2 linked regions of the Homo sapiens genome follow. The protein of the gene in region 1 purifies or fractionates together with the protein of each later gene. This does not show direct contact. Each region holds a gene or a part of one and is shown on either strand. Other genes may lie near its edges.

Region 1 (6,977 bases):
TCCTGACCTCGTGATCTGCCCGCCTTGGCCTCCCAAAGTGCTGGGATTACAGGCGTGAGCCACCGCACCTGGCCTGTGGTCCATATTGATTTTAGACCTGAGCTGCCCACAGTATCAGCCTCCAAAATGTGTATTGTGTTGGTAGTGCTCTCTTGGTTTAGCTCTGTGTTTCCCTCCATGACCCTCTTTCCCTCAACTGTTTCTCACTAGGGCCCTGCATACTCACATCTGACGGAGTTTGCACCACCCCCAACTCCCATGGTGGATCACCTGGTTGCATCCAACCCTTTTGAAGATGACTTCGGAGCCCCCAAAGTGGGGGTTGCAGCCCCTCCATTCCTTGGCAGTCCTGTGCCCTTCGGAGGCTTCCGTGTGCAGGGGGGCATGGCGGGCCAGGTACCCCCAGGCTACAGCACTGGAGGTGGAGGGGGCCCCCAGCCACTCCGTCGACAGCCACCCCCCTTCCCTCCCAATCCTATGGGCCCTGCTTTCAACATGCCCCCCCAGGGTCCTGGCTACCCACCCCCAGGCAACATGAACTTTCCCAGCCAACCCTTCAACCAGCCTCTGGGTCAAAACTTTAGTCCTCCCAGTGGGCAGATGATGCCGGGCCCAGTGGGGGGATTTGGTCCCATGATCTCACCCACCATGGGACAGCCTCCCAGAGCAGAGCTGGGCCCACCTTCTCTGTCCCAACGATTTGCTCAGCCAGGGGCTCCTTTTGGCCCTTCTCCTCTCCAGAGACCTGGTCAGGGGCTCCCCAGCCTGCCGCCTAACACAAGTCCCTTTCCTGGTCCGGACCCTGGCTTTCCTGGCCCTGGTGGTGAGGATGGGGGGAAGCCCTTGAATCCACCTGCTTCTACTGCTTTTCCCCAGGAGCCCCACTCAGGCTCCCCGGCTGCTGCTGTTAATGGGAACCAGCCCAGTTTCCCCCCGAACAGCAGTGGGCGGGGTGGGGGCACTCCAGATGCCAACAGCTTGGCACCCCCTGGCAAGGCAGGTGGGGGCTCCGGGCCCCAGCCTCCCCCAGGCTTGGTGTACCCATGTGGTGCCTGTCGGAGTGAGGTGAACGATGACCAGGATGCCATTCTGTGTGAGGCCTCCTGCCAGAAATGGTTCCACCGTGAGTGCACAGGCATGACTGAGAGCGCCTATGGGCTGCTGACCACTGAAGCTTCTGCCGTCTGGGCCTGCGATCTCTGCCTCAAGACCAAGGAGATCCAGTCTGTCTACATCCGTGAGGGCATGGGGCAGCTGGTGGCTGCTAACGATGGGTGACGCTGGTGAAGTGGCCCAGGGAAGTGCACATGTCTCTCCCTGCTCTTCCAGGGTGATTTTTTTGATGTTTGGCTCTTGGTCCTTGTTTCCACTGGCTTTCCATCCCCATGGGGCAGAAACAGTGGCTCCTGGGAGCAGAAAAGGAATTGAGGTGGGCAGGCAGAAGAGCCTGGATTGCTCACTGTTTTGGGAAACTTACATGTTGAGATCTACAGAGATCCAGGAAACCAAAGCCCTGCTGAGCAGAGCCATTTTGTGGCTATTTCTGGAGGCCCAGGAGTGTGGCTGCAAGAGAAAAGGGGCTGGAGGAAGATCCGGAGGGCAGGGGTGTTCCCTCTGCTGATGATGGATGCCCCTAACACCTGTGCCTAACACCCCTACTGAACCCCACAGCTCCAGCCTTAGTTTTTGGAGTCAAGTGTTAAAGGTTTCTGGCCAGAGGAATTGGGGTCTTGCCATCCCTGCAATAGCCCTTTTATGGGCTCTGGGAGACAGCTTTAGGGAATAAATGGGGATTTTCCCCTTTTTCTACCCACTCCTTTGCTTCCTCCAAGACTTACCCAACTCCTTCCCCCTCAGAGAACCAAATAGCCTGAGGAAGCAGGAGAGTTCCTGGTTATGGCAGTTTCTTGGTGATTTGGGGCTTCAAGACAGTAGGTGAGAGATGCTGTCAGGACGTATCTTCTTCATACCAAAGTCACTGGTCCTTTCTCAGCCTCTCTCGTGCTTTTCTCCTAATGACCATATTTTTGCCAAAAATTGGGATATGTTATCTGACAGACCAGAATATTTGAAGTTTGGGCTGTCCTGAAAGTCTGGACTTTGGTGGTACCCTCCTCCCCCAGCCCATCTGTTGCACATTATACTCCGTGTGTTCTTCAACTTTCGGCGCCCTTATTCCCCTGCCTTCCTGGCTTGATTGAAGGAAAGCTTGAAAAGGCGCAGAGCCCTATACCTCATTTCCTCCATGATAAAAGGATCCAAGTGAGGCCCTGTCACAGCCTGTGGGTAGGGGATGCGGCGGGATCCTCATTGCCATGGTACTCAAAGGTAGAAGAGCCTGGAGTTTGTTGCTTCTCTTTGCTATTCTTTCATATCCTCTTGGGCCTGGTGATTAATTAGCAATTCTCATTCCTCTCAGCCAAAGGCCTGCACTGGGCTTTATTTGTCTTTTTTTATTTTTTAAGCACTGCCTGCCAGAGATGGGCCTGGGGCCTGATGAGGACCTTAGCGCTGCTCGTTCTCCTTTTCTGTTCATGCACACATTCCTCCATGGGGTGGGGAAGGCAGGCATGGGGTGTGGCCCTCGGAGAAGTTAGGAGTCCCCCAGCTCAAGATACAGTGGCAAAGACCTAGTGGTCCCCTACCCCCACTTCTCTCAGTTCCTGGCATGAGGAGAGAAGACCCTGCTCTGGTGGAGCTGACAACCTTTGAGGCTGGGAGGAGAGCAGCCTCTGGGCATCGTTCCCAGTGTCCCTCACACTAAAACGGCGTAGATGGCAACCCCCCACCCCCACCCCGCTGCTCAACTCTTGTGTTTGTTGTTCTGTTTGCCCCATTTATCTGTTGCTGTTTTTGTGTTGTCTTCCCCTGCTCCGCATTTTGTAAAATGGCCCCTGGGGGAGTGTTTTTGCTGGATCTGCTCCCTCTCGCTCTCTCACTCCACTACTTTTTGGAACAAAGTGATGGCAGAATGCGGTGGTGGTGGGGGTCTTTTGTACTGTTGGATTAATAAAATGATTTTAAAATCCCAGACAAGGACTCCTTGCTGTTGCTGTGTGAAAAGGCTGGAATGAGCCGCTGTCACTGCTGGGTAGGGTGCTTAGGGGTTGAGGATATGTATGCTCCCCAGGGTCCCTGGGAGTGGGAATGGCAGATTTGGCCCCTGAGCTGACCCTGGTATAAGCTGCTGAGCCAAGGGAGGCCTGTGTTTCCCCGCCCATCCCCCTGTGTCTCCACTGTGAGAAACTGAGTTTCCTTTTTGAGCATATTCCTGGGCCAGGCCTGGAGCCAGGCGGATTTGGCACCACAGCCTCTGGAAGACAAGTGCTTGAGCTCTTCTGGGTTTAGCACCCCACCCACCTCCCAGTTGTTTGGGTTAGGGAGCAAGTGTCGCTCTAAGGGTGAGGGGAGGGGCTGCTTCTGTCCTAGCAAATTTCATTTTGGGATGTTTTTCAGATCGTTCCCGTCCCCCAACCGTTTTTTAAAGTAGCAATGGCATCTTTTAAGCAGTCTGTTTTGGAGCAGATTGGGGAGAATGGCAGGAGGGCTATTTCCACACCCTGGATTTGCGACCTGTCCCTCTCCCTTCCCCCATCTCACAGCTGTCTCTGTCTATCCTGGGGCCAACCTGGCCCCTTGTCTTCGTCATCTCAGAAGACGGCACCGTCTGCTTTTCTCTCAGTTTGTGGGGGTTCCCTCTAGAAACTGTTTAGACACTGGGAAAGAAGGGCAGGAAACTCAGGATTCGGTTAGCTGGGACCCCGGTCGCCCACCAGGAGGTAAGCCCAGGTTTAGGGCCGTGTCGCTAGACCTCCCTTCCCCTCCCCTGGCTCTCAATTCCTGCTCTTATTGGCCAAAAGTTTCCGCCCCCTTGGGGAAGTTGACTTTTCATTGGTCAGTTTCTGGTCACATGATTTTCTTCTCGGGCTGCAAACAAAGGGAAGCCTGCAACAAGTTAAGCTGAAGACCGAAGCAAGAGCTGGTTCAGGTAATGCCTTAGCTGGGAAGGGGTCCACAGATTCGCTTTGAAGGGGGTGGAATAAGGAAAAGGGAAGGCGGAACTAATCTAGAAGGAATGAGCTGCTTTTCATTTCTGGGCTGGGGGAGGAAGGCCAGGTGCCGACGCTAACACAACAGGAACTTGCTCTGGGTACCCCAGGCAAGTGGCCCTAGATCCTTTGCTTTAGCGGTTTGGAGGAGCAACTGTTAGAGGAGTTTAAATTAACTAGAGGCGAGACTTCCTAGCTTTATGCTGAGTGGGAGAGCTCCCCCTTTAGCTGTTTTTTAGAAATAGCAGAAGTCTCTGTCATAATCCTTACAGGAGGTGTTTGTTGAATCCTGCCTGAATGAAAAGAAGGGGGTGGAGGGAGGGAGTGGAGGTGGGTTTTCTTCCAGAAGGTCGATGAAAAGAAAAAGATCTGGAAACACAGCAGGGAAGGGTGGAGATTAGACAGCAGAAGGAACTTCCTAATAAGGCAGTGAGATGCTGGCTTGGGAGAAGAGGTGTTTTTTTGAACCCTGGGTTAACCTAACCAAGAAAGAGGTATCAGGGTTTGGAACCCAGAGTATAGGAGTTTCAGAGTGTCTCCTATTTGGGTCTCATAAGTATTTGTTTTGTTGACCCAAATACCTTTGCTGGTTTCCATGGAGACAGTGGGTCTGACATCACTGTGGTTGCCATGGTGCCTGGTTCTAGAGGACCTGAGCAGGCTGCACACACAGCTAGGGATAAACAGGGACTTCAGCCCAAGCTGCTGCCACTTCCTTCCTGCCACCACCTGTTAACAGTCAGCAACTGGGGATGGGGAGATGATAACAAGGGCGGGGGTGGAGCCACAAGCGGAAGGCTGAACAGCCATGGCTCTATGGATACTTACAGATGCATGCCAGGGTGTCCTGTTGGATTTGGTACAGGGAGGTCATTGCAGCCATTCTCCTGTCTCCGTGTGGAATGGGTGCATGTGTCTGGGAGGATGGGCATTGGGAAAGACCTATCCAGGACTTGGATCTTGACTGGCAGGAGCCACAGGAGGTTACTTAGGGCACCACGCAGGACTTGAAAACAGCTCAAACAGAAGGGGATAATGTGGTTGGTTTCAAAGGTAGAACTGCCATACTCTCCCAGCCTCACTTCCCTTTTCCTGAGTTTTCTTATAAAGTGCTCGGGAAGCAGTCATTTATCCTGTTCTGAGGGATCACAATCCAGTACTCTTGAGAGGTCAGCTCATCTATCCTTCCACCTTTATGCCTGGTCCCAACAGGAGCTGCCTGAGGGAACTGTTTTAGCCTTGGATGAAGGGGCGGATCCCTCTCTTCTTACCCTGCTTTGTGTCAGTCAGGCTTTGGAAACTGGAGTGATTCCCTCCCCTATCCCTGTCAAGTCAGAGCAGATTAACCGGGTGCAGGACCATAGCCCTGATTTTTGTCTATTTTTTGCAAGCTATAAAGTGATGTATATATACATGATAGTTGCCATAAATCCATTTTCCCAGTCACCTTCAAGTTCCCTAAGACCAAACTCTGGCGATTACTAAGAAGGTAAACAGAATTTAGGATGAAGACTGAGAGTGATGAGGAGACTTATAAAAGGTGCATCCAGGTGGATCTAAGCTATGCCAGTGGCTCTTAACCCTGGCTGCGCATGAGAATCATTTGAGTGGTTTTTTAAAAGACCCACAGCCGGGCCTACCCCCCAACTCAATTGAATCAAAATCTTAGGTGATTCCAATGTGCAGCCAAGATTGAGAACCACTGAACTAGACCATACCAAGGACTTATGCTGGGCAAGTGGTGGGACACTTAGGGCTGAAGGAGGCCATTGAGTCTTCCCTTCCAGGTCCTGGGGGAGAAGGTAGTGATTGTGTAGGTACCTGGTGTTGTGAAGGGAGGGCTGTGTTGTTTCCCTGCTCTTCTTATTAACAAGTCTTCTTATTGGCAAGTTGAGTCTGTCAACCTTGCTGGGCTTCATCTTCCCTGACTCAAATGTCAGGGGGCTGGACTGGAATTCCCCAGAGCCTTTCCAGCCTATGCTACTTTGACCTTTCAAGGTCAGTTCAGTTTTCCAAGGCCCTGTTGGTCCCTGGAAGAGGCTGGCTTCTCTGTGGGTGTTGGCAGATTCTGATTTGCAAGGCAAATACTGCTTAGAAGAGCTGGGGTGTCAGGGAGAGAAGGACTGGAACCAGGCTTGGTTCTGGAGGCTGCTGCCCAGCACTTGAACCTTGGAACCCAGCCAAGGCTGCTTTCTGCATTCTGCCCCTCCTGAAGGGAGCTCCCATCCTTAAGAGAGCTTTCTTCTGCAGGTGGCAGCCACAGCAGCCTCAGGGACCTCAGCAACTATGGCCTCCTGCCCAGACTCTGATAATAGCTGGGTGCTTGCTGGCTCCGAGGTAGGAAGAGCGGGCCTGGGAACCATGGGGGTGGGGTTGGGGGGTGTTTCTGCAGTGCTGGGCTTCTTTCTTGGTGGGTCCTTTTCCTTAGTCCTGATGGTCACCTACATCACTTCCTGCTGGCTGTTAGAGGAATTCCAGTAGCAGGAAGAAGTAGATCAGGCCCCAGGGGTCAGGTGTTGGCACTTGGACCATGCCATGAAGGAAGGGACCAGTTGGGTAAGCTGAGACAAGTAGGGATGGATTTCGAATGGAGAGACCAATGTGAACAAAGGTCCTGAGGCGATAGTGGGGAACGCCATGCTGGGGGAGACTGTGGGACACCCATGGGTGATGTGGAGACGTGGGTTGGAGCCAGTGTTGGAGTGAGGTTGGGGACAGAGCCTGGGAACCCCTGGAAGAGACCGGAAGAGCCTGGCTGAGGCCTTCAGGCCTCATCCTGATGGGAAATCAGTGTGGGGCTTTGGGTTAGAGGGATCAGGACAATCATTGTCTCAGGCAGAGGGTGAAGCCACTGTGCATGCTGGGTGGGAACAGGGAGAGAGTGTTTCAAAGACCCCCTGCAGCAGTCCAGGTAGCAGCTGGTGGGGC
Region 2 (7,051 bases), on another chromosome or scaffold:
AGTGAGACTCCATCTCGGGAAAAAAAAAAAAAAAATTAGCCTGGTGTGGTGGTGCACGCCTGTAATCCCAGCTACTCGGGAGGCTGAGGCAGGAGAATCGCTTGAACCCGGGAGGTGGAGGTTGCAGTGAGCCAAGATCACACCACTGCACTCCAGCCTGGGCAACAGAGCAAGACTCCATCTCGGTGTTGCGGGGAGGCGGGGGGAAGAAAAAAAAAAAAGGAACAAACCAGGAATGTGGAACGTGGGGCTTGGCCTCTTCTGTACTTCTTTATCCTTCAGATCTACCTGCCTGTCCCAGGGCTGGTTGTGTGTGCATGTCGCAGGTGGGGTCTAGAGCTTCCTATGCGTGAATGGGACAGCCATCTGATTCCCAGAAGATGTATTAACACCCTTATGGCTACAGATCCAAAACCACATTCCCCAATTGGTTTTATTAGTAAAACCAATTACATTTGATTTAAAACAAAAGCAAATGTAAATCACTAAATACAGTGCCTGCTAGAGAGTAAACACACTGTAAGTAACAGCTGGTATAACTATTTCTGGACCCTAGTATGACTATCAGGCCAAGCACTTTCAACTTTTTTTTTTTTGAAATGGGCTCTCTCTGTCGCCCAGGCTGCATGATCTCCACTCACTGCAACCTCCGCCGCCCAGGATCAAGCAATCTTCCCACCTCAGCCTCCAGAGTAGCTGAGATTACAGGCATGCACCATCACGCCTAGCTAACTTTTTTTTTTTTTTTTTTTTTTTTTCAGAGACAAGAGTTTCACCATGTTGCCCAGGCTGGTCTCAAACTCCTGAGCTCAGGCGATCCGCCAGCCTCGGGCTCCCAAAGTGCTGGGATTACAGGCGTGAGCCACTGCGCCCAGACAAGCCCTTTCAACTTTAATCAGGGGGTTTTAACTTTCTTGCCAAACGGTCCCTAAGGAGAGAGAGTTAATTCACTGCCAAGCTCAAAATTTCTTTGAAATGTTATTGTTCTATCTTATAATTTGGTAGAAATTTTGTATTTTCCTTCTAGAAAAAGAACTATTTTTTTTCTTTTTTCTTTTGTTTTGTTTTGTTTTTGAGATGGAGTTTCACTCTTGTTGCCCAGGCTGGAGTGCAATAGCGCACTCTCAGCTCACTGCAACCTCCGCCTCTCAGGTTCAAGGGATTCTCCTGCCTCAGCCTCCCCAGTAGCTGGGATTATAGGCATGCGCCACCACGCCTGGCTAATTTTGTATTTTTAGTAGAGACGGGGTTTTGCCATGTTGGCCAGGCTGGTCTCGAACTCCTGACCTCAGGTGATCCACCCGCCTCGGCCTCCCAAAGTGCTGGGATTACAGGCGTGAGCCACCACACCCAGCCTGAAAAAGAACTATTTTCCCACAAATATTTGAGTATAAATGTGGTTCATTTATCCTGTCTTTGGCATGCTCTAGTTTGAGGAACAACTCCTAGCCCAGTGCCTCCCCAAACTCCTCATCATCAACTCCAACTTCTTGGACAACGCAGACCTCTTGAGTGCACCAGAGCCCATACCTGGCATAGGTGGGGGTAACAACATAGATAGTAGGCAGGGCCTCGGGTTCAGGGGGCTGGGCAGGGGCAGGGGGTGGCCGTCGGAGTTCCGCTTGCAGCTGGGAAATCCTCAGATCCTTCTGCCGTAGCTGCTCGGCTGCTGCCCGCAGGGGAGGAAGGCAGTCACATGGCTGGCCTGGTCCCAGGAAGCATTAATGGGGAAAGAAGGTGGGGACAGAGAACCGCAGAATGTTCAGCATCCCAAAGGGCCGTAATCGTCTCATTAATTCCTAACCAATGCAGGTATCACCTTATGACTTCCCTAGTAGCCTTTTCTATACCTCTCGTGTGGGAAACTCACTGCCTCAAGCAGCAGACCCTCTCCAACTTTAATAAATTCCATTGTTACAATTTTATGTTGGATATTGAGCTGATTCCATCTTTTCTACCTGCTGGTCCTAATTTTGCCTTCTGGGCTTCTAACAAGCTCATGTCCTTAAACAGGACAGTCTTTTCAGAGTCCAAGGTGCCAACTAACCATTACACTATGGAACCCCTTTTGGACAGTCTTTCAAATACCTGAGGATAACGCAGTGGCACTGTCCCTAAATCTTTGCATAAGGGGCAGGGTTCGATCCATTCCCTTGGCTAGGTGACCAAAGACTCATTGTTAAATTCATTGATTCCATCGTAGGATAAATATTTATTGAATACTCTTCCTAGGAGGCACTGCCTTAGGTGCTGGGGATACAGCAGGGAACAAAACAGACACAGTCCCTGCCCTCATCGAGCTTTCTGTTTAGTGGAGGAAGCAGACACTAAGCAAAGAAACAAATTAATAACATTATTACAAACTGTGATGGGGCCATGAAGAAAATAATCAGGATAGAGAATAAAAGGGAATGGAATTAAGAATGGTAACTTTAGCTATGGTGGTCAGGGAAGGCCTCTCTGAGGAGGTGACATTTGAGCTAAGACCTGAAGGATGAGAAAGAGGCAGCCCGGGAAACGCTGGAAGCAAAGCACCCCAAGCAGAGGGAACAAGTTAAGTGCTTGAGAGAGTAATGAGCGTGGGGTTTTCGAGAAACTGTCAGCAAGCCAGTCTGGCTGCAGCAGAGCGAGGGAGAGGGGTGGAAATGGGGTTGGGAGAGGCGGACGGCAGCAGGATCATGCGGGGCCTTGCAGGCTCTGGGAAGGAGTCTGGATTTCATCCGAGGTGCGGCGGGTAGCCGCGGTGCGTTCTATAGAGGGCAGTGCGCCTGAGGCCGCAGAGCTGTCCGGAGGGCCGAGCGGATGAATGGTGTTTGCCGGGGGTTCATCCCCAGGGCGGGATGCACGGCGGCGGGCGCCCTCGGGCCAGCCCGCCGCACCCCCGCCCCGCCCCGCTCACCGAGCTGTACCAGCGCGTAGAGGAGGCCGGCGATCGACACCAGGAAGTAGGCGAGAAACACGTTCTTCAGCTTCAGCTTCATGGCCGCGCCGCCGCCCGCGCCCGAGCAGGCGGGGTCTGCAGGGGACGAGGGGTTCCCGCCCCAAACCCCGGCTCCTGTCCGCAGGCCCCGCCCCTGCAGCGGCTCCGCCCTGCGTCCCGCCTTCCTCGCACTCCCCTACCAGCTCCCAGCTGGGGCTGGCAGCGCCGCCAGGGCACGCTTCCGGTCATCTGTGCACCCCCCCGCCTTGTAGACTTGATTTCCGGTCCCACCGCCAGGTTCCGGGAACCACCGGGTGGTGACGTCACATCCGGCGTGCCAAACTCGCGTGGCCGGCAGTCAAAACCCCGGGTAGGTGCAGAATCTCGAGTAGGTGCACGTGGTACCTACCTCGAGACCCGCCCCCTCATCACGGAATTGCCTGAGAAAGCCAGTCCTGGCGCCCAGATCTTCACCTTATTCATCCATCCAGTCAGTCACGCCACCCAATAGCTGTTGCTCAATACTTATTACACGAATGAAATCTAAGGCCCACCACATGATCCTCTGGGTGTCTCTCCTGGAATCCTCACTATAATACTTTGAGATAGATAAGAAACCAAAGTTGACAAAAATTATGTCATTGCCACAGGGCAGTTTTGTGTCCTTTCTGGACACCCGATTCCAGCATCTCTAGTGTGTCCTCTGGCCCACATTTCTTCAACAGATGACAACAGGGGTGCCAAGGAAGTGTTTTAACTACCAGGAAATTGATTGGAAATAGTTCCTGAGCTGGGGAATTCCATGAATGCATCCCCTTCCTCCTCACAAGCACAAGCCATCCTTCTCATTTTTCCTTTAAAAAAAAAAAAAAGGGCCCGGCCCAGTGGCTCATGCCTGTAATCCTGGCACTTTAGAAGCCCAGGAGTTTCAGATCAGCCTGGGCAACAAGGCAAAACCCCGTCTCTACAAAAAAAACACAAAAATTAGCTGGGTGTGATGGCGCGGGCCTACAGTCCCAGCTACTTGGGAGGCTGACATGGGAGGCTGAGGCTGTGGTGAGCCGTGATCATGCCACTGCACTCCAGCTTGGGTGACTGGGTGAGACCGTCTCAAAAAAAAAATAACCCCCCAAAAAAAGTTTCTGGTAAAATAATCTCTGACTTGTGGTCAGTCTACAAAATGAGGGGAAGGGGGAACAGTATACTTCCTGTCACTAAAACAATGGGAAACTTTAAAAAGTGCTGTTAGCAGCTGGGCGCGGTGGCTCACGCCTGTAATCCCAGCACTTTGGGAGGCCGAGACAGGCGGATCACGAGGTCAGGAGATCGAGACCATCCTGGCTAACACGGTGAAACCCCGTCTCTACTAAAAAACACAAAAAAATTAGCAGGGTGTAGTGGCGGGCGCCTGCAGTCCCAGCTACTCAGGAGGCTGAGGCAGGAGAATGGCGTGAACCCGGGAAGCAGAGCTTGCCAAGAGCCGAGATCGCACCACTGCACTCCAGCCTGGGCGACTGAGGGAGACTCCGTCTCAAAAACAAAAACAAAAACAAAAGTGCTGTTAGCTACAAGCAGAAGCCTCTAGGTTGGGCACAGTGATCGATGCCTGTAATCCCAGAACTTTAGAAGCCTGGGAGGTCAAGGCTGCAATGAGCCAGGATCATACCACAGCACTCCCCGCACTCCAGCCTGAGCAATAGAGCGAAACTATGTCTCCTCAACCCCCGACATCCTCCAAAAGTTTAGTTTGAGAAACAGCTATCTGACCTTATGGCTATTTCTATCCAAGAGGGACTCCATTGGCTCTGATCACCACTTACTAACTAGGCCTACTAAAATGTGATGATCTTGCTGGGCTCTTCTACGAAAATATCTAGCAACCCAAGGAAGGCTTGCACTTGCTCATTTTGCTGAAATCAAGGATGCTCATGCTGGCCGGGAACAGTGGCTCATCCCTGTAATCCCAGCACTTTGGAAGGCCGAGGCAGGTGGATCACTTGAGGCCAGGAGTTCGAGACAACATGGTGAAACCCCATCTCTACTAAAGATACAAAAATCAGCCAGACGTGGTAGCAGGTGCCTGTAGTCCTAGCTACTTGGGGGCTGAGGCAAGAGAATCGCTTGAACCTGGGAGGCAGAGGTTGTAGTGAGCCGAGATCACACCATTGCACTCCAGCCTGGGCAACAGTGAGACTCCATCTCAAAAAAAAAAAAAAAAAACCCAAAAAGGATGCTTATGCTGAAGCCAAATGAAAATGTAAGGCCCATGGCCAGGCATGGTGCCTCACGCCTGTAATCCCAGCACTTTGGGAGGCCAAGGCGGGCAGATCACCTGAGGTCAGGAGTTCAAGATCAGCATGGCTAACATGGCGAAACCCCATCTCTACTAAAAATACAAAAATGAAGCTGGCCATGGTCGCAGGTGCCCGTAATCCCAGCTATTAAGGAGGCTGAGGTGGGAGAACTGCCTGAACCCAGGAGGCAGAGGTTGCAACGAGCCAGGATCACACACTGTACTCCAGCCTGGCGACACTCTGTCTCAAAAAAAAAAAAAAAAAAAAAAAGACCCAGGGCGCAGTGGCTCACTCCTTTAATTCCAGCACTTTGGGAGGCCGAGGCAGGCGGATCACCTGAGGTCAGGAGTTCCAGACCAGCCTGGCCAACATGGTGAAACCCCATCTCTAATAAAAATACAAAAATTAGCTGGGCATGGTGGCGCATGCCTGTAGTCCCAGCGACTCGGGAGGTTGAGGCACGAGAACTGCTTGAACCTGGGAGGCAGAGGTTGCAATGAGCCCAGATCATGCCATTGCATTCCAGCCTGGGCAACAGAGTGAGACTCAGTCTCAAAAAAGAAAAAAAAAGGAAAGCAAATGTAAGGTCTCTAGGCTTCTAGGGTCTGTGGCTCAGGCTAGAACTAGAATCCAGACTACCACCAGTTATTTATGGTTTATCCCTTTATTGTTTCTCCTTTGATCAAAACGTGTCACAGCTGGGAACCAAGAGGAAGTAAAAAAAATACCCACAAATATTCCCCGACTCCCCATTAGTCCTCCCCCAACCCCCCACCCAGGGCTTCCAGCCAACCCCGAGCACACATGATCATCTCCCCCCACCCTCAGGCTTCTCCTAGCAATAAATACAGGTGACCATGATTCACTGAAACCACAACTGATTTCTCCATCTTAAGTGCCCCTCAAAGGGGACAAGAAGGGGGCAAAAGAAGTTTAATGCGCATCCCCTAAGAGGTGTGGAAACGTCTTTCTGCCGAGGGACAGAGGAGGTAGAACTGCCCCTCTAAGAATTGCAGCAGCTCTACAAGGAATCGGGGAGAGGAAAAGGGTAGAATGAGAGGGAAAAGGATGTTCTTTAGCAACCTCACTCCTTTGATCCATTCATCCTGTCCGGGGTAAGGGGTGGTCCCAGTGTATCGGTGGGGCATAAAAAGGGGAGTAAAGCCTGGAGGAAGAAATGAAAGGTGGGAGAGCAATCTGGTGGGAGGGAAGGGGAAAAGGAGCCCTAACTCATTGCCCTCATCTTCTTCCAAGAAGTGGCATCAACATACAAGAGGCATGAATGGATAGACTCTGGGGGAGTTCAGGGCTCCTAAATAAGGGAAAGAGAAGGGGCGACAAGGGCCCTGTGGTTTCCTGGTGTTCGTAAGTGAATGTGCTCCAGTTAGAGCAACAGGATGTTGGGGGAATGAAGGGAAAGAGTTGGTATCAATGGAGTGGGAGAGGTGAGGAGATCACAAGAGGAATTTGGAGCCCAGGGTCAGCCCTCTCATCCTGCCCAAATGTTGGCAGAATCTGGGTCTTAGACTAGCATAAGTGAAGTCTGGGGAGGGCCGAACTCCAAGGCAGAAGAAAGAATATCTCTCAGCACTAATGCTCCCCTTCCCTCCCCCTAACCCAGAACATCCCTTGGGTTATCGCAGGTGAATACTCCAATCAGATGCCACATTGATGCCAGGCTTGCGCAGGACCAACACAGAGGTCTCAGGGTCATGCTGGAAGGACAGGCGGCTTTCTGGAGATCCTGGAGGAGGAATAAAAGAGTGCCATAGTCATACCAATGGGCTATAGCATAACAACAACGTTCCTACAGGCAAGGGCATCCCTAAACCTGCCC

What was found.
Region 2: the proteins of PBXIP1 (region 1) and B3GAT3 purify together in Homo sapiens (affinity purification with mass spectrometry; 4 studies listed by BioGRID and IntAct, with this or other methods). This does not show direct contact.

Annotation. Positions count from the first base shown.
Region 1 is NC_000001.11:154,953,080-154,960,056, reverse strand, and holds the start of PBXIP1 (pre-B-cell leukemia transcription factor-interacting protein 1), read left to right. Parts: upstream 1-3,957; 5' UTR 3,958-3,988; intron 3,989-6,299; 5' UTR 6,300-6,335; coding exon 6,336-6,386; intron 6,387-6,977. Other genes in the region: PYGO2 (pygopus homolog 2), read left to right, coding at 211-1,278. UniProt on the Homo sapiens protein: Regulator of pre-B-cell leukemia transcription factors (BPXs) function. Inhibits the binding of PBX1-HOX complex to DNA and blocks the transcriptional activity of E2A-PBX1.
Region 2 is NC_000011.10:62,618,967-62,626,017, forward strand, and holds the start of B3GAT3 (galactosylgalactosylxylosylprotein 3-beta-glucuronosyltransferase 3), read right to left. Parts: upstream 3,021-7,051; 5' UTR 2,982-3,020; coding exon 2,900-2,981; intron 2,854-2,899; exon of another isoform or gene 2,150-2,853; coding exon of another isoform or gene 2,089-2,149; intron 1,706-2,088; coding exon 1,531-1,705; intron 1-1,530. Other genes in the region: GANAB (neutral alpha-glucosidase AB isoform 3 precursor), read right to left, coding at 6,849-6,958. UniProt on the Homo sapiens protein: Glycosaminoglycans biosynthesis. Involved in forming the linkage tetrasaccharide present in heparan sulfate and chondroitin sulfate.